Homo sapiens: one gene and its partners. The protein of the gene in region 5 interacts with the protein of the main gene of each other region in a pairwise test. Each region holds a gene or a part of one and is shown on either strand. Other genes may lie near its edges. The genes, in order: NOD2, SDCBP, CFTR, ATPAF2 and LURAP1L.

Region 1 (3,520 bases), on a different chromosome or scaffold from region 5:
TTGCTTCCATCTATTCTTTTACCTCTTGGGCTGGGTTTGTGGATGGGAGCCGCCATTTTAAAATGGCGGGCCACATAGCTCAGTCTCGGCAAGGGCTACTGAGATCAGAACCACAGGTGCCAATTTGTACAAAGGACTCAGTCCTGCTACCACTGCCTGATCCCTCAGACTCACAAGCCTGGAATAGGCTGTGGCCAGACCTGGCTGGCCCATCCCTGAGAAGGGTGCTAGTTTCAGAAATGGAGGCTGAGTTTGTGGCCAACACAGTAGTCCTCCGGTATGTGCAGGAGAGATGTTCTAAGACCCCAGTGGATGCCTGAAACCATGGAGAGTATCAAGCCCTACACATACCATGCTTTTCCCAATACCTACACACCTGCAATAAAGTGTAGTTTATAAATTAGGCACAGTAAGAGAGTAATAGCAACTCATAATAAAATAGAACAATTATAACAATCAATGTACTATAATAACACTATGTGAATGTGGACTCTCTCCATCTCCCTCAAAATATCTTCTTGTACTGTACTCACCCTTCTTCTTGGGAAGATGTGTGGTGGTAAAATGCCTGTGTGATGGGAGGAAGTGAGGTGGATGACGCATGCAGCACTGTGCTCTAGCGCTGGGCTGCTGTTGACCTGACCACACTTCAGGAGGAGAATCATCTGCTCCCAGAGATCCCTAATCTTTGAGCAACAATGAGGTCGGCAGCTGGATGTCAGGAGCAGACGATCTTGATGATTACCAAATGGGAGCGTATAGAGCGTGGATGCGCTGGACGGGGGGCTGATTCACGTCCTGGGTGGGATGGAGCTGGATGGCACGTGATCAGAATAGCATGCAATTTAAAATGTATGAATTGTTTATCTCTAGAATTTTCCATTTAATATTTTTGGACTGCAGTTGATTTCAGATAACTGAAACCATAGAAGGCGAAGCTGCGGATAAGCAGGGGGCAGGGATTACCGTATATCATTGTAATAGAGAGCACAGGCTCTGGAGCCAGACTGCCCGAGGTTTGAACCCTCATTAGCTGCGTGACCTCAGGTCAGCCCAATGTCTGTGTGCCTCCGTTTCCCCTTCTGTAGAATGGAGGTAATAACCCTGGCTACCTCACAGGCTGTAGTGATGAGCAAGCAAGTTAATCCACATGAAGGGCTGCACCGTCTGGCAGGGGCTTTATATAGTAAGCGAGTGGCTGAAAGATGATGGGTAAATCACACAAGCACTCAGCTTGTTTCTCCTTATGTGAGTCCGGTCCTCCAAGCAGGGATTCAATGTGCCACCCATTTATTGGGGAAAAGTCCTAAAAGGGGAAGTGGGGAAGGGAGCTGGGGGAGGCTGGGAGGTGTGTCCCTGAGTGAAGGAGAGAGGGAAGGAAGGAAGGTTGAGACTGGGCACCTTGGACTTCAGTGCAGTCCTAAGACATCTTGGCAAGGCTGATGAGGAGTTCTTGAACCAAATTCACCAGGCAGGGGAGCCTGATGTCTCAGGCAGGGGCTGGCAAGTGCAGATGCGAGGATGTTAGATTTTGGAGCACAGCAGCTGGGGCCCTTGGCTACCTCCAAGGAGCTGAGGCTGGAGACCTGAAAGGCGAGTTCTCCTAGCTGCCACACCCCTTCTCCAAGGATACAATAATATCTGCCTTATAGGATTGTTGTGAGCTGAGTGGCTTGACGTTCCTTGAAAGAATGAAAGCGTATAGTTATCCCAGGAAGCCTAGGGTTGCAGGTGAGAGCTCTGGGGCTTCTCCGAAGCTCTCCGAGGTGTCTGGATTCAGTTGCAGCAGGAGCCTTCCTTGCTGGGATCTTCCCCCACCCCTAGCCTTGGCCCTCCCTCTCTCCTTCCTTTCTGGAAGGCTCAGTGGGCCCCACCCCTCCCTCCAGCCACCTGGACCTGCCCAGCGCTCTTGTGCAACAGGTAAAGCCTACCTGTAGCAACAACAGATCTGGGAAGGCTGCAGAGGGCACGATGGGGTCTGGATCGAGGGCGGCTGAGACCAGAGGGAAAGGTGTGACCCTGAGTCACCCTCGCTGTCCCGGGGAAACCACCTCCCAGGACAGCTGCCTACTGTGGCTCCTGCCTGGAATTGTCACACTGCTGTGCAAACAGCGTCCCGCTGCCCCTTTCCCTTTGCTGGGGGAAAATGAAGTTGTGGGAGCCGCTGAGTAAACTAGACCTAGCAGCGAGGGCACCTGATGTGGCTGCTGCCTCCCGGGCAGGTCTTCAATGCTTTCTTCCTGTGTTTCCCTGGCCAGGGCACAGACGGCCCTCCTTTTCTGCCTGCCGCTGTGTTCTCTCAGCCTCCTCTGTCTTCCCTTCCAGGCTGGGGAATAACTACATCACTGCCGCGGGAGCCCAAGTGCTGGCCGAGGGGCTCCGAGGCAACACCTCCTTGCAGTTCCTGGGGTAGGTTGGATTCCAGGAAGAGGGACCTGCATGGAGGGGCTTGGGACTTTTGAGGATTTAGGGGCAGGTGAAACTCTTCAGCCAGGAGGCCCCAGAGGCAGCCCAGCTCCAGTGGGGAGGACAAGCCAGGGAGAGAGTGGGCGGCCCTTGACTGCCACCTTCATACTTGGTCTATGCCTGACAAACAGGAAGTTTGGGATGTTGGGGCTAGGGGAGGACAGTGCCCACGAGCTGGTGACAGGAAGCCCTCTGATCCTCAGGGGGCGCTAGGGCTGTACTTTAGCTGCATATTAAAACCACCTGGAAGCTTCTAAACACTATTGCCAGGCCTCCCACCCCAGACTGATGAAATGCAAATATCTAGGTGCAAGGCCCAGGTATCAGGAGTTTTAAAAAGCTTCCCAGGGGATGTACAGCCAGGGGTGAGGACCCCTGACCTAAGAAAGAGAAGGAAATGGGGAAGGATAGGAAGGCACCCAGGATAAGAGGGGCTGTGCTAGGTCCCTCGGAGCTCTTGCTCCCTGTAGGACCATGCTAGGGCCTGCCAGGGAGGGGAGTACCCCAACCTGCAGCCCCAGGGTGGGCTTCCTCTGTTTGCTAGGCACCCAGGCTTGCACCTGTGCTGTTTCCAGCAGCCTCTCTCCTATCCTGTCATGCCCTAGTGTGAACTGGAGTCCATTTGACAAGAACTGGGAGTTTTAGAACCTGGGACTGTAGGAAGAGAGAATAACCTTAGGGCCTAGGTGTTCCAGCCCATTTCACAGGGAGGCAAGTTGCCCCCAAGCTCAGTTTTTTGTTTTGTTTTGTTTTGTTTGAGATGTAGTCTCACTCTGTTGCCCAGGCTAGAGTGCAGTGGCACGATCTTGGCTCACTGCAACCTCCGCCTCCTTGGTTCAAGCGATTCACCTGCCTCAGCTTCTCAAGTAGCTGGGATTATAGGCACCCACCACCACGCCCAGCTAATTTTTGTATTTTTAGTAGAGACAGGGTTTCACCATGTTGGCCCGGCTGGTCTTGAACTCCTGATCTCAGATGATCCGCCCGCCTCGGCCTCCCAAAGTGCTGGGATTACAGGTGTGAGCCACCGCACCCGGCCCCCAAGCTCAGTTTG
Region 2 (3,520 bases), on a different chromosome or scaffold from region 5:
ATTTGCACAGTTAGGCCCAGCATCACCAAGTAGAGTCTAGAAGGGTGGATTTGGAGCTGACAAACAGTAGTTTAATATCTGTTACCACCTACTCCTTTGACTACTCAGTATATCCACACACTTGTACAAACATTTGAATTTCATGTGACAACAACAACAACTTTATAGTTTCTCCTTGAAAGATGAATTTCTTCATAAAATCAAAGTTCAAACTTTATAAAGGGCTCCATAATAAATACCTTAGGCTTTCATGGTCACTTATGATCTTTATCACATATTCTTATTGTTATTTGTTTATTTACAATCTTTAAAAATATAAAAATCATTTTTAACTCAGGGGTGTACAAAATGAAGCCATGTACCCTTCAATATAAATGAAGTTGCTCTCACCCTTTCTCTAGAAAGGGATGATACCAGTTAATGTGGCCATCTCTGGGCAGTCATCATGGTATTGATTACTATATGATACTAATTACCCTTCTAAGTATTCACATTCCCAACAGAATATTTTTAATTTAAAGGCAAAAGTGTAAAGTTAACCACTACCAACAATTCATACATAAAGGTAAAAAGAGGTATAGAGGAACAGAAAGATTAATTGCTGTATTTACAGAAAATATACAAATACAAAGAAGAACAGAGTCATAGCTGCTCTGATTCTTATTTTAGTAACTGATCATGAGGCTGTAGTTAAAATTTAGAACTTCCTTTGTTCACTACATGGATGCTTAGATCCCTTTGCCCAAATACCTAGAAGGGTGATATAACCTTCATTTTTGTGTCTGCATCTCCAGGGTTCTTCAGTGCGCCGCCTTTTATTTTTCTTCTGTTCTATTTTAAATTAATTTGTTGCTGGAGATTTCTGTTATCTCTTCATATCTAGTGAATTTTTCATTTCACATATTTTATTCTTCTTCTCTTGATGTTCCATCTGGATCTTCCTCTCCCCAGCTTTATTGAGGTATAATTAACAAATATAAATTGTATATATTCAACTGTATATATCAATACAACTTGATGTATTGATAAACACACACAAACACACATTGTGAAATGATTACCACAGTCAGGGTTATTAACGTATCTGTCATCTCACATGGTTACATTTCTTTTGGTGTGTGGTGAGAACACTTAAGATGTACTCTTAGCAACTTTCAAGTATACCGTACAGTATTATTAATTATAGTTACTATGCTGTACATTAGATCTCCAGAACGTACTCATATGATAACTGAGAAAGTTTGTACACTTTGACCAACATTTTTCTCATTCTTTGCCCTGCCCAACCCCAGCCCCTGACAACCTTCCTTCTACTCTCTATTTCTGTGAGTTTGACTCTTTTCAGATTCCACATATAAGTGGGACCCAGACAGTACTTGTCTTTCTGTGTCTGGTTTATTTCACTTGGAATAATATTCTCTACATTTATTCATGTTGTCCAAATGGCAGGATTTCCTTTTTTTAGTGGCCTAATATTATTCCATTTTCTTTTTGGTTGGGGAAAGGTTCCACTTAAAATAAACCAGTTTTGATTAGGAAAACTGGAAAGAATTAGAAACTTGAAACATGGTATATGACACAGGTCCCTAATGTAGGTATTCTGGGGCATTCTGGTTTGTGCATATGATTTGTTAATCCATAGATGGTTACTAGAGGGGAAGAGACATAATAGTTGACTGTCTTATGTGTGCCAGTGCCCATACAACATGCACTTTTCATTTAATCCTGTCAGTAACAGTGAGGTAAGAAATTTGCCCCTTTTATGGAAATTCTGAAAGGATAAGTAGATTGTCAAAGATCGTGACATCATGAACCGTCTGGAAAATGTTTCAAAAGTATATGGCCTTTAAGTTCAAAGATAATAAATTTGAGATGAAGACAAGCCAGTATACCGGTGAAACAAATGCCAGTGAATTCAAAGGGCAACAGAGAGTCATTGAATCTATTAGAGATGATATGTGTGGGAATAAGTTAGTGAAGAATTAGTAGTAGAGCCAGTGCCATTTTCATAGACATCAAACTTTATCGGAAGGAAATTATTTGTGGATTGCTTTTTGGAAAGCCAAAACTGAGTAAGTTCCAGTTAATTATCATTGTTTTTTTCAAGGAGAGTGTTTCTAGATATTGACACATTGTATATGGTTTTGTCAGCAGTTGGTAGCAAGACCTTCCAGTATAAACTATATGGTGGCTCCTGTAACTGGTAATGATGTTGGAATTCGTAGAGCAGAAATTAAGCAAGGGATTCGTGAAGTCATTTTGTGTAAGGATCAAGATGGAAAAATTGGACTCAGGCTTAAATCAATAGATAATGTAAGTATTTTAAATACCTATTTGAATTTGTCTAAATCTCTTACATAATAAGTGATTAATGTTAAAATAATTTGAAATGGAAATGCTTTAATTATAATAGTGCATCTGTAGTTGAGAATATTTTAAATCTACTAACTTAAATGTTTTCAATTGGGGATGTTCTATTTTGCAGAGGCATAGTTGGGACTTCTGACCACATTACTTTGAAAGATGTTTCTTTTCTGAATATTCTAACTGGAATACATTTCACTGGCCTACATATATTATAGTTTGTATAATAGAATTGTGGCAATTAAATAGAGCAGATGTGAAGGTTAAGAAAAAACTTTCCAATGAGAGTCAATGTCAGTGTGCCTTTTTTTTTTTTTTTTTGAGACGGAGTCTCGTTCTGTCGCCAGGCTGCAGTGCAGTGGTGTGATCTTGACTCACTGCAACCTCTGCCTCCCGGATGTGTGTGCATTTTTAAACCAAATGATCAGTATTTAACTGGTGAGATGGTTTTTGCAGATTTGTTATTAACATCCTTCACATTTGAATTTAATATGTCATTTTCTGAGTAAAAAAAGATGGAATATTCTTTCTAATTAGGGCAGCCTTTACTTTATAATTACCTCTCACCTTAACATACTGAAGATATGAAACAGGGTTACTCTCTGAGGAACCATTTATAATTGTGAAGGACATGTTGAGTCTTTACCCCAATTTATAGTTTTAGCCATTACCTTATTGGATTCGGTTTCAGTCATACATCTCTAGCTTAGTGCATCCAGCCTTTCCACATAGAAAATTATAAGTGTGGTGCACTGCTGTAAATGGAGGAGGCTGATCTTGGCAGGAGGCCCCCGCCCTGCCTGCCCACCCAGGGGGCTGAGGCCATCGATGATGGCCTTGCTCACTTGTATGTCACTCAAAATACATCTGCGTGCTTAGTTGGGATGCTCTGACTTTGCTGCCCTTTCTCCAGAATCTTCAGGGAATAGAGTATACTGCTGCTCCTTCCGCCAGGATTGCTCTTGTGTTCTTTCCTCTGTCCTAAAGAGAAAAGATACTTTTCATAGGCCCCTTGGCCCCACTGTAGGTAATAGTTGCAGTGGATTTGTTCACTTGGCCAAAGGGCATTTGTTCATTTATGGGGTGCTACCTAGTTCTTGCTTATCATTCTACAATGTAACAGATGTGTGATAGAAATATGTGACCTAGCTTAGGA
Region 3 (3,520 bases), on a different chromosome or scaffold from region 5:
TAAGAATTTGAATTTCTGAGTATTTATGATAAGTGTTGAAATAACTTCTTATATGTGACAGTGAATACTGGCAGAGCAAATGCCAAATCAATGCCAAATCTGTAGGATCATTTGATTGTAGGAACAGAATTCTACTCAAACCGAAAGCAGGCATTTGCTGGAGTTACAGAAAGGCCTCATGGAACACCGAGAAGGTGGTGCCATTCGACTCTTAAAGAAGCTGCAACAGGCACAAGAGAGTCAGCTGCAGCTCTTCTTCTTGAGTCTATATCTGTCCTGGGTCCATTCCTTTTTGTGGTTGCTTCATTCCTTTCTCTCTCTGAAGACTGGTTTTTCTGGTCTACCAGGGCTATGCCACATTGACTTTATGTAGTGTCTCCATTCTGGCCTCCTGAATTTACAGGAGAGTTCCTCTGTACAAACTCAAAGTCCTGGAGAGAACAGAAAACAGCTTCCTTTTGGCTCAGGGGTCCAACTGCAGTCTACTCTGCTGCTATGAGGATAGTGGGTTCACCACCTTTGTTGTTCTCTCAGCTAGGGCAGTGGGAAATGACTCTATGAAAGGAATATACATGGGCAGGCAAATGTACTAATCCTCATCAGTACTGTAATTTTAAGCAACTTTAAAAAATTCTTTTAAGTTATTTGAAAATAAGATCAAAGAAGGCTGAATTACATAAATGAAGATTTGTTAACAATTAATTCAAACCAATATAACACATGCTATAACATGGTTGAGTGTGATTGAGTCTTGATTTATTAGGGGCAATAATCAAAACATTTAACAATCATTATAGTACAGAACTTACCAATCAAATCAGATGCTCAGCCGGAGTGGATGTTGGCCACCCAGCTATTATTATCCCTGGCTCAATTGGTCTTCAGCTGTGTTAACTTGCAAACATTAATTAACTATCTAAGCCCCTCATTTTCCTCAAGTGTAAATAGACACAATAATATTACCTATTCCATAGGTGTGGGGTGAATAGTAAATGTAATAATTTGTCCAAAACACTTAGTATAGTGCCTGGTCCATGGTAAATACTAAATAAATGTTATCTGACTTATTATTAAAATTTTATCTTCTCAGCTTAACCTTCAGAACAGTAATATATTGGGGTCTAGATAAATCTTGCCTATATGAAAATAATTTAATACTACATGCAGATATATGCTGTGTATATTATGCCTTCTGTTAGAGGAATTGCAGAAACAAAAATTTCAATTAATAATAAGATGAATTATTTCTCCCAATTGTAGAATCTTTTGACAATTTTATCATGCATTACAGATGTAAGAACTCTTGATTGGGACTTGATAGTCTAACTTTATAATAATTTAAGAACATTCCTCTTAGAGAATTTCTATGGCCATAATACTGAACACATGAATTTTAATTAGCTGTCCTCTTTAGCCCTAAAAAAAAAATTACTGTAATTTAACACTTAAGTGTTGTTCTTCCCAGGTACAGTAATCTTTTTTTTTTTTTTTTTTTTTTTTTGCATAGAGGGTAATCTTTTCTCTTTCCAAATGGCAGAACTGTTAGTTTTCTGACTGTCCGGTGAAATTCTAAGTCCACTTACTTCCCAATAGCATGCAATTAGCAAAGGTCCTCCTTGCAAAGGCACAGAACACACCTAAACATCTTGCAGATGCTGTTTGGACACTCTTCCCCTGCTTTTGGTCTCTTTGTAAAGCAGCTCATCTGGATACAGGATCTCTTTTCCCCATTGCCCATTCTAATATATGTTACCGTTATTACTTATAGAATAATAGTAGAAGAGACAAATATGGTACCTACCCATTACCAACAACACCTCCAATACCAGTAACATTTTTTAAAAAGGGCAACACTTTCCTAATATTCAATCGCTCTTTGATTTAAAATCCTGGTTGAATACTTACTATATGCAGAGCATTATTCTATTAGTAGATGCTGTGATGAACTGAGATTTAAAAATTGTTAAAATTAGCATAAAATTGAAATGTAAATTTAATGTGATATGTGCCCTAGGAGAAGTGTGAATAAAGTCGTTCACAGAAGAGAGAAATAACATGAGGTTCATTTACGTCTTTTGTGCATCTATAGGAGAAGGAGAAGGAAGAGTTGGTATTATCCTGACTTTAGCCATGAATATCATGAGTACATTGCAGTGGGCTGTAAACTCCAGCATAGATGTGGATAGCTTGGTAAGTCTTATCATCTTTTTAACTTTTATGAAAAAAATTCAGACAAGTAACAAAGTATGAGTAATAGCATGAGGAAGAACTATATACCGTATATTGAGCTTAAGAAATAAAACATTACAGATAAATTGAGGGTCACTGTGTATCTGTCATTAAATCCTTATCTCTTCTTTCCTTCTCATAGATAGCCACTATGAAGATCTAATACTGCAGTGAGCATTCTTTCACCTGTTTCCTTATTCAGGATTTTCTAGGAGAAATACCTAGGGGTTGTATTGCTGGGTCATAGGATTCACCCATGCTTAACTGAGTGGTGCCAAATTGTCCTCAAGTCTGTTGTACTGATATATATCCCCATCAAGAGAGTACAAGAATTCTCATAGCTATGTATCTTCAACAACACTTGGTGTCTGGTAGATGTGAAGTGATTACTAAAAATATAGGGAAGCTGCATACATAATTATTGGCTTTTGCTGTTCTCTTACATTAATTTCTTATTCATGTTGATTACTCATTTGTCACCTAGTTTTTTCTTCCTTAATTAAATTGTAGGAATTTATGAATTATGGATTGATCATCAGCTCTATACATTTCAAACATAATCCCTCAGTCAGTGGCTTGGCTTATAGAGTCTTTTGATGAAAAGAAGCTTTTAAGTTTAATAAAGTTCAATTTATTGTCTTTTCCTTTATGTTTTGTGCTTTTGGTATCTTGATTAAGAACTCCTTCCTTATATTGGGTTCTCAAATTTAGCAGCATAACATTTTCATACTATTATTTAAATTTTTTTCACATTATTTAGTGATAGCACCTTTCTTATTCCTAAAGTGTTTATCATTGCCTTCTGTCTTTCTGCTTGATAAATATTGCCACACATTTGTATACTTTATTAGTGTGTACAAAGACCACATTTTAGTTGTGTTATTTCTCTTGTTTTGGTTTTCTAGAATGCAGAGCCATTAATATTATAGTAATGCTTATGTGCTAATACCATATCAGGGGCACAAATCCCATTGCAGCGGGACTGAGAAATTAAAGGAAATGATGCACATTTACTCATTTTTGTTTAAAAAATCAAATGCATATTTTTCAATCAGACTATATGGTTGGTCTGGATAGCTTCATCATTGAATTTTTAAAGTATTTTTGTACTACTGTATTTAAAATTATTCATTCACCACTGCTTTTGTAGATGGTTTAGAAACCCAAGTTAGGAATGACTGTGCAACACTATTATTATACTCTTTTTAAAATTATACTTTTTGCTTAAGTTTCTTTCCTTGTTCTCTGAGACAGTGTTCATGTTCCCAAACCACACACATTTATTCAGCTA
Region 4 (3,520 bases), on a different chromosome or scaffold from region 5:
GATGGGACATGTGCAAAGCTCATCTCTGCACTCTCCAGCCATTTACTGTCTAGTAGGAATACAGACACTAAACCAGGCAAACAATAAGGTGACTTCTGTGATGGGGCAGGCACGTGGAACGATTAGTCAGAATTAAATTGCAACTTGAAGGTGAGGCAGGAGGTACCAAACTTTCTGATTGATTCAATTTTTTTTTTTTTTTTTTGGCAGAGCAGGGCTGTGGAAGTAGTTTCCAGATGAAGAAACAGGTTGCATGAAGGACCAGGGTTTCTAGAGAGCAGTTGTGGACTAGACAGATGGTCAGAAGGAGAATGCAAGATTCTCTAAGATGCTAGAGAGGGCAATGGGGCCACATATGGGGGACATGTAGATCACTGCAAAGACAGCAAAGGGAGCCAAGTAAAGGCTCCACACAGGCATACAGGAACTTGATCTGGGGCCGGGCATGGTGGCTCATGCCTGTAATCCCAGAACTTTGTGAGGCCGAGGGGGACAGATCACTTAAAGCCAGGAGCTCAAGAGCAGCCTGGCCAACATGGTGAAACCCTGTCTCTACAAAAAATTAAAAAATTGGCGAGGTGTGGTATTGCCTGCCTGTAATACCAGCTACTCAGGAGGCTGAAAATCAGTTGAACCCAGGAGGCGGAGGTTGTAGTGAACCAAGATTGCGCCACTGCACCCCAACCAGGGTGACAGAATGAGACTCTGTCTCAAAAAAAAAAAAAAAAAAGAACATGATCTGGACAATTCGTTTGGGGGATCCATGTTCCCCAACAATGTCACATAAGACAAAATGTGAGACCACCAGAAACCTATGAAGCTTCCATGTTCTCGGTGAATACATGGTTAGCAGACATCAATGGTAACCCTGTCTTTAAAGATGAAAAAAATCAGCCTAGCTTTGTAGGATCATGCAGAACTGGCCTTTCCTTTAGAAAGATTACCAGCCTCAGGAACCACAACTCCCACAGTGCACCAAGAAGAGGAAGTACTGGTTTCAGAGCTGTCTCAGTGCCTTTATCTTTTAAAACAGTGCCATCTGGTGGGCCTTAAACCTTAAAGGTGAAATTCTAACTCCAGGGCCATCTGTAATCCTAGGGCGGCTCTAACCAACTCTTTTCAGGTATCAAAATTCTTCAGCCCAAATACATAAAGAACTCTTACGACTCAATAACAAAAAGACAAATAGGCTGGGCATGGTGGCTCGAGCTTGTAATCCCAGCACTTTGGCTGGCTGAGGCAGGTGGATCACTTGAGTCCAAGAGTTCAAGACCAGCCTGAGCAACATGGCAACACCCTGTCTCTACAAAAATACAAAAATTAGCCAGGCATGGTGGCACGTGCCTGTAGTCCCAGCTACTCAGGAGGCTGACATGGGAGGATCACCTGAGCCTGGGAGGTTGAGGCTGCAGTGAGCCATGAACACACCCCTGCACTCTAGCCTAGGCAACAGACCGAGGCCCTGTCTCAAAAACAACAACAAATAACCCAATTTAAAAATGTTCAAGTCTGAGAGACCGAGGTGGGAAGATTGCTTGAGTCCAGGAGTTTGAGACCAGCCTGGGCAACATAGCAAGACCCTGTCTGTACAAAAAAATTTTAAAGTCAGCTGGGCATGGTGGCACACACCTGTAGTTCCCAGCTACTTTGGAGGCTGAGGTGTGAGGCTCGCTTGAGCCCAGGAGGTTGAGGCTGCAGTAAGCTGTAACTGAGCCACTTGCACTACAACCTGGGTGACAGAGCAAGACCCCCTCTCTTTAAAAAAAAACAATGGTCAAGGGATCTGAATAGACGTTTCTTCAAAGAAAATATACAAATAGCCATTAAGCACGTGAAAAGATACTCAACATAATTCATCAGAGAAATGCAAATCAAAACCACAATGAGATACCACTTCAAACCCTTTAGGACAGCTGTAATAAAAAAGACAACAACAAGTGTTGAGATATAGAGAAACTGGACCCCTCAAACACTGCTGGTGGAAATGTGAAATGGCACAGCCACCTTGAAAAACAGTCTGGCAGATCCTCCAAAAGTTAAACAGAGTTACCATTTGACCCAGTAATTCTACTCTTAGGTATATGTCCAAGAGAAATGAAAACATATGTCCACACAAAAACTTGTACATGAATGTTCATAGTAGCGTTATTCATATTAGCCAAAAGGTAGAAACGACCCTGTGTCCACCAATGGATGAATGGATAAGTAAAATGTGGCATATTTACACATACAATGGAATATTGTTTGGCAATAAAGAAGAATGGAGTCATTGATACATGATACAAGGTGGATAAAACTTAAAAACGTTTGGTCATGGTGGCTCACTCCTGTAATCCCAGCACTCTGGAAGGCCGAAGCAGGAGGATCACTTGAGGCCAGGAGTTTGAGGTCAGCCTGAGCAAGACCCCATCTCTACAAAGCACTAAAAAGCTAGCCGGGCATGGTGGTGTGTGCCTGTAGCCCTAGCTACTTGGGAGGCTGAGGCAGGAGGATCACTTGAGCCCAGGAGTTTGAGGTTACAGTGAGCTGTGATCGTGCCACTACACTCCAGCCTGGGCAACAGAATGAGACCCAATCTCTTAAAAACAAAAAAAAACAAAAAAAACCCAAACTTTAAAACATTATGCTAAGTGAAAAAGTCAGTCAAAAAAGACCACATTCTATTTATATAAAATGTCCCAAACAGGGAAATCTATAAAAGAACAAAGGAAAGTAGTAGTTGCCAAGGGATGGAAGTAGTAAGGGTGGATGATAGCTAAAGGGTGCAGGTTTCTTTTAAGGGTGATAAAAATGTTCTAAAATTGATTGTGGCAATGGCTGTACAATTCTGTAAATATACTAAAAACTATTATATTTACACTTCAAGTAAATGAATTGTATAGCAAGTAAATATCTCAATAAAGCTGTTAAAAAAATCCTTCAGGCCAAATGTATAACATTTAGCAAACTTTTTCTGCAAAGAATCAGATAGTAAATATTCTAAGCTTTGCAAGCCATACAATATCTGTTCCAACTATTCAACTCTGCCACTGTAGTGAAAGTAGCCATAGATGATATGTAAATGAATGCATGTGGCTGTGTTCCAATAAAACTCTATTTACAAAAACAGGTGGCAGGCTGGACCCTGATCTACAGACTACATAATCTCCCTCAATCCACACCACTATTCTATGAGGATGACAAGGCAGCTAATGCCTCGGAGGTGATAGAGAAGCTAAACATCTTGTCTTGGTGACAGACAACTGGTAAATAGCAGAGACAAGACTTCTAGCCTTGACTTCATCAGGCAGTTGCATTCAGCCAGATACGCTGAATAGATAGGTTTCTCCAGAACACCTGCCACTCTGGGAGTCAATAGACCTCTGATAAGCTGGTGCAGAACTAAACTGCCACAACAACCTCATATAGGTCTTCTTGTTGCAATATCTCCTTCTCCAACACCTCAGTGACCCTTTCGTAAACTCCTCCTCTCCTTCTGATAACCTTCAATGGCATGGCCATTCCTAAGTGGCCAAGTTCA
Region 5 (3,561 bases):
GTAACAGAAATTTACCAGATTGTATTCACGATCTGAAACTGATCTGAGAACAGAAATGGCCTTTCATGTGCATGGCTTGTTCAAGGCAAAGGGTAGGTTTTAAAGAAGTTAGAATTTGCCTTTGATGCCTCACACTCTTGCAGCCTGCCACTTCTTTGTAGTTGAGGATATTCTCCTTGCAAGGTTGTGGACATATGGTTACATATTTCATTATCTTCTGTTTGAAATTGGTTGGTTACATTTTTAATTTTTGTTATGAGCTTACATTTGCTTTCTCATTCCCATTTTATTATTTAACATCAATAATTACCAAAGAGGTTATTGAGTGTTATTGTTAGGAATAAGACAGATGCAAGTTTAAATCCTGGCTTTGACACTTACTGGGAGACTTGTCTCAGTGGCCTACCTTCTATGTGCCTCAATTTCCTCAAACATAGGATGATGACAGTCCTCACATTATGAGATTGTTGTGATGAGGATTATATCAAGCGACTTATGGGAAAAGATCAGTGCAAAATATAAGCCCTGATATATTTTAATTAGAAATTGAATAATACATGCCTTGGAAATAAACAATAATAAATTCAACATGTGTAGTAAATATATAATAACAAAGGAAATTTGGGTGAAACATTTCTCAGTTATAAGAAGGAAGATTTTTTGATTTGTATTATAGAGTGTTTAGTCCGGAAACATTTATCATTACAAAGAACAGCATGAAATCTTAATTAGATTCCCTCACTAGGAGTTATCAAGATAAAAGAAATGCAGAGGATTAATAACATTATATTTAAAGTAAATATCCACTGTCTATGTGCGTTAAATATTCCATTTCAGAAAACTTAGAGATTATTTATTTATACTAGGATGAATGTATATCATATTAGACTTCTTAAATGAATAACAATTCTGCTTTAGGGAAGCAGTAGTAGGATGCTGATAGTAGGCTATCGGGATATTTATCTGTCTTTCTATCCATCGGCTTGTATGCATCTAAGTATTTATACATCCTATCAGAATCACAAAATACATACAAGTAAATGCCAACAAAATCTCAAAATGCAATTAAATTTAGGACATTTTTGCCTTGAATGGCCTCCATACTTAATCTCAATTATTCCTTGAAATTTGGGAGAATAATACATTTTATTACACAAATAAACATATGATTTGAGTTAGAATCACTGATGACAAAATGTTAATCTAAAGTACCAACACAAGGGTGAGTTGGTTGAACAGAATGTGTATAGTTGGGGACTTTCAGATGATTGTCATGTGGGCGTGTGTGACTAACAGTATGGTTGATTATACACTAGAATGTTGTGGTCTAGAAATAATGCTTAATTTTGTTCCAAGCATTTTGTTCAACCTGATATGCAAACAGTAATATATCTCAATATCTTCTGGAAGATGAAACCTTAAGTCATTTAAGGACGCAAGCAGCAACATTAACTGTTATCAGACTTTGGTTTATTGTAAAATTTAGCAAAGTTTTTCTTGTAATCCCTGACCCATTGCTCTGAAAACAAAAGCAAAAACATAATTATTGCTTATTCTTTTCCCCCTACTTTGTTTGTGCTACTGTAAAAGAAGGGAGAAAATCATTGTAATAAATAAAAAATAGAGATGTAACAGAGAAAAATAAATCAGCTCAGATGAGAAGTATTAGGAGCAACAGCAATACCATTAAGCAGTTTCAAAATCAGCTTCTTTTAAAAAGGTCATCTTATTAAAATAAAAATCACACCAAAAATATAGCAGCGGAGAAGAAGGATAAATACAAGTTCATTGCACACCAGTCCCATGCAAAAAACTGTCACTAGCCAAAGCAGTAGTATTCAGAATCCAATTTAGGACGCTTGTGTAGTGCCTGTGAGTCCTCTATGAGGGAGCTGTCACTGAATTGGTCCAAGTCTGAAGGGGTCTGATGGCCTGGGACATCATCCGCCAACGTGTCCAGATAACTTCCCACGGAAATGCCATCCAGCCCATCACTGCCATCGTGTAGGCTGTTGTAGCTGCCACGTAAGGAGGTGCTCTGACTCTCCAACAAACTGCACAGGCTGCCACTGAGGCTGCTGCCTCTGCTGGTAATGGTGGCTTTTTCTTCGATCATCCACTTGATGGACTCGATGCTCTCATTGATTACAAGCAACTGGCGCATGAGCCTGACGTCTGTGGCTCTGAGGTTAACCTATGGACAAAGAGAGAAGAAAGATATTCCAGCCATTTTACACTCTCGAAAGGCCTCAAATTCATCTGGGGACTGTCTGCTGCAGTTCAGAATTTTAAATTCACAGAATAAAATATAAGTGGACTGGTTGTCAGGAACTTTTTGATAATTGCTGACTGATGGTAGGAGTTATAATAAAAAAAACTCACTTCCTGCCAGATGCATCAGGCTCCAAAAGGCACAATAAAACCCCTGCTGCATCCCTGACCCTAACCAAGTGGCCTGAACATATCATACTGAATGGCAGGTTCTCTACTACAAAATTTATTTTCTCTTTGGCCAGATTAAGTTTATTAATGTTTACGTTGGCGTATATACGTGGGTCCTGAGTCGTGGGGAGAAAAGGAAGGTGAACAAATTAAGGAGTCATCCTCAGCATCGTAGAAGCCTCTAAAAGCCTCTGATTATGGAGTGATAATGTGCCAAGCACCATCATAAAAGTTCAGCATTCATTAGCAAAATCTAATAACACTGTATGACAGGTATTATTATTTTTGTCTTCATTTTACACATGAAGAAAGATAAATCTATAGAAAAGAGTTAAGAGTACAAAAAAGACCTGTATTCTTTATGACTATATCAACATAGACAGTGCTGAATAATGCTTTTGCTTTTAAGAACCAAATTGCTCTAATATTCCCTGAATCCAAAGGATGGGTGATACACTAGGCTGATCCAATTTATGAGACGAAGTGTACAAATATTTCTGTATATCTGACTATTTGTTTCAGATATATCAGGGGCACCCCAATCAAAAGTGGGATACCAGATGTTGGGAAGGTCTGAGAATTCCCTTATGTGCCTTCTAGGTGTGTGGTCCTTTTTTTTTTTTGGGGGGGGGGGGGGGACGGAGTCTCGATCTGTCGTCCAGGCTGGAGTGCAGTGGCGGAATCTCGGCTCACTGCAAGCTCCGCCTCCTGAGTTCACGCCATTCTCCTGCCTCAGCCTCCCGAGTAGCTGGGACTACAGGCCCCCGCCACCACGCCCGGCTAATTTTTGTATTTTTAGTAGAGACGGAGTTTCACCATGTTGGCCAGGATGGTCTCAAACTCTTGACCGCGTGATCCGCCCGCCTCGGCCTCCCAAAGTGCTGGGATTACAGGCGTGAGCCACTGCTCCCGGCAGGTGTGTGGTCCTTCTGATAGCTCTAAGTTACTTCAGGGATATCTATCTCCACAGCCACAAAGCAGGGTCTCTTTGCAGGTCCCACAGTTTACTGTAAACATTTGCTAATATCAAGAGGTGGTGTTTGGGGAGGTGGTGCTGTAAGAACTCCCATGATTGTTCTGTTGGAACAGAAGAGATATGGCTCGAGTACAGAGCCTGGC

Evidence for each region.
Region 1: the proteins of LURAP1L (region 5) and NOD2 interact in a two-hybrid assay, tested with the Homo sapiens proteins (one large-scale study listed by BioGRID and IntAct).
Region 2: the proteins of LURAP1L (region 5) and SDCBP interact in binary tests that used the Homo sapiens proteins (3 or more experiments, as listed by UniProt).
Region 3: the proteins of LURAP1L (region 5) and CFTR interact in a protein complementation assay, tested with the Homo sapiens proteins (one large-scale study listed by BioGRID and IntAct).
Region 4: the proteins of LURAP1L (region 5) and ATPAF2 interact in binary tests that used the Homo sapiens proteins (3 or more experiments, as listed by UniProt).

Annotation. Positions count from the first base shown.
Region 1 is NC_000016.10:50,717,600-50,721,119, forward strand, and holds part of NOD2 (nucleotide-binding oligomerization domain-containing protein 2), read left to right. Parts: intron 1-2,325; coding exon 2,326-2,409; intron 2,410-3,520. UniProt on the Homo sapiens protein: Pattern recognition receptor (PRR) that detects bacterial peptidoglycan fragments and other danger signals and plays an important role in gastrointestinal immunity.
Region 2 is NC_000008.11:58,573,749-58,577,268, forward strand, and holds part of SDCBP (syntenin-1), read left to right. Parts: intron 1-2,151; coding exon 2,152-2,313; intron 2,314-3,520. UniProt on the Homo sapiens protein: Multifunctional adapter protein involved in diverse array of functions including trafficking of transmembrane proteins, neuro and immunomodulation, exosome biogenesis, and tumorigenesis.
Region 3 is NC_000007.14:117,612,524-117,616,043, forward strand, and holds part of CFTR (cystic fibrosis transmembrane conductance regulator), read left to right. Parts: intron 1-2,089; coding exon 2,090-2,190; intron 2,191-3,520. UniProt on the Homo sapiens protein: Epithelial ion channel that plays an important role in the regulation of epithelial ion and water transport and fluid homeostasis. Mediates the transport of chloride ions across the cell membrane.
Region 4 is NC_000017.11:18,032,650-18,036,169, forward strand, and holds part of ATPAF2 (ATP synthase mitochondrial F1 complex assembly factor 2), read right to left. Parts: intron 1-3,520. UniProt on the Homo sapiens protein: Plays a role in the assembly of the F1 component of the mitochondrial ATP synthase (ATPase).
Region 5 is NC_000009.12:12,820,019-12,823,579, reverse strand, and holds the end of LURAP1L (leucine rich adaptor protein 1-like), read right to left. Parts: intron 2,195-3,561; coding exon 1,820-2,194; 3' UTR 520-1,819; downstream 1-519.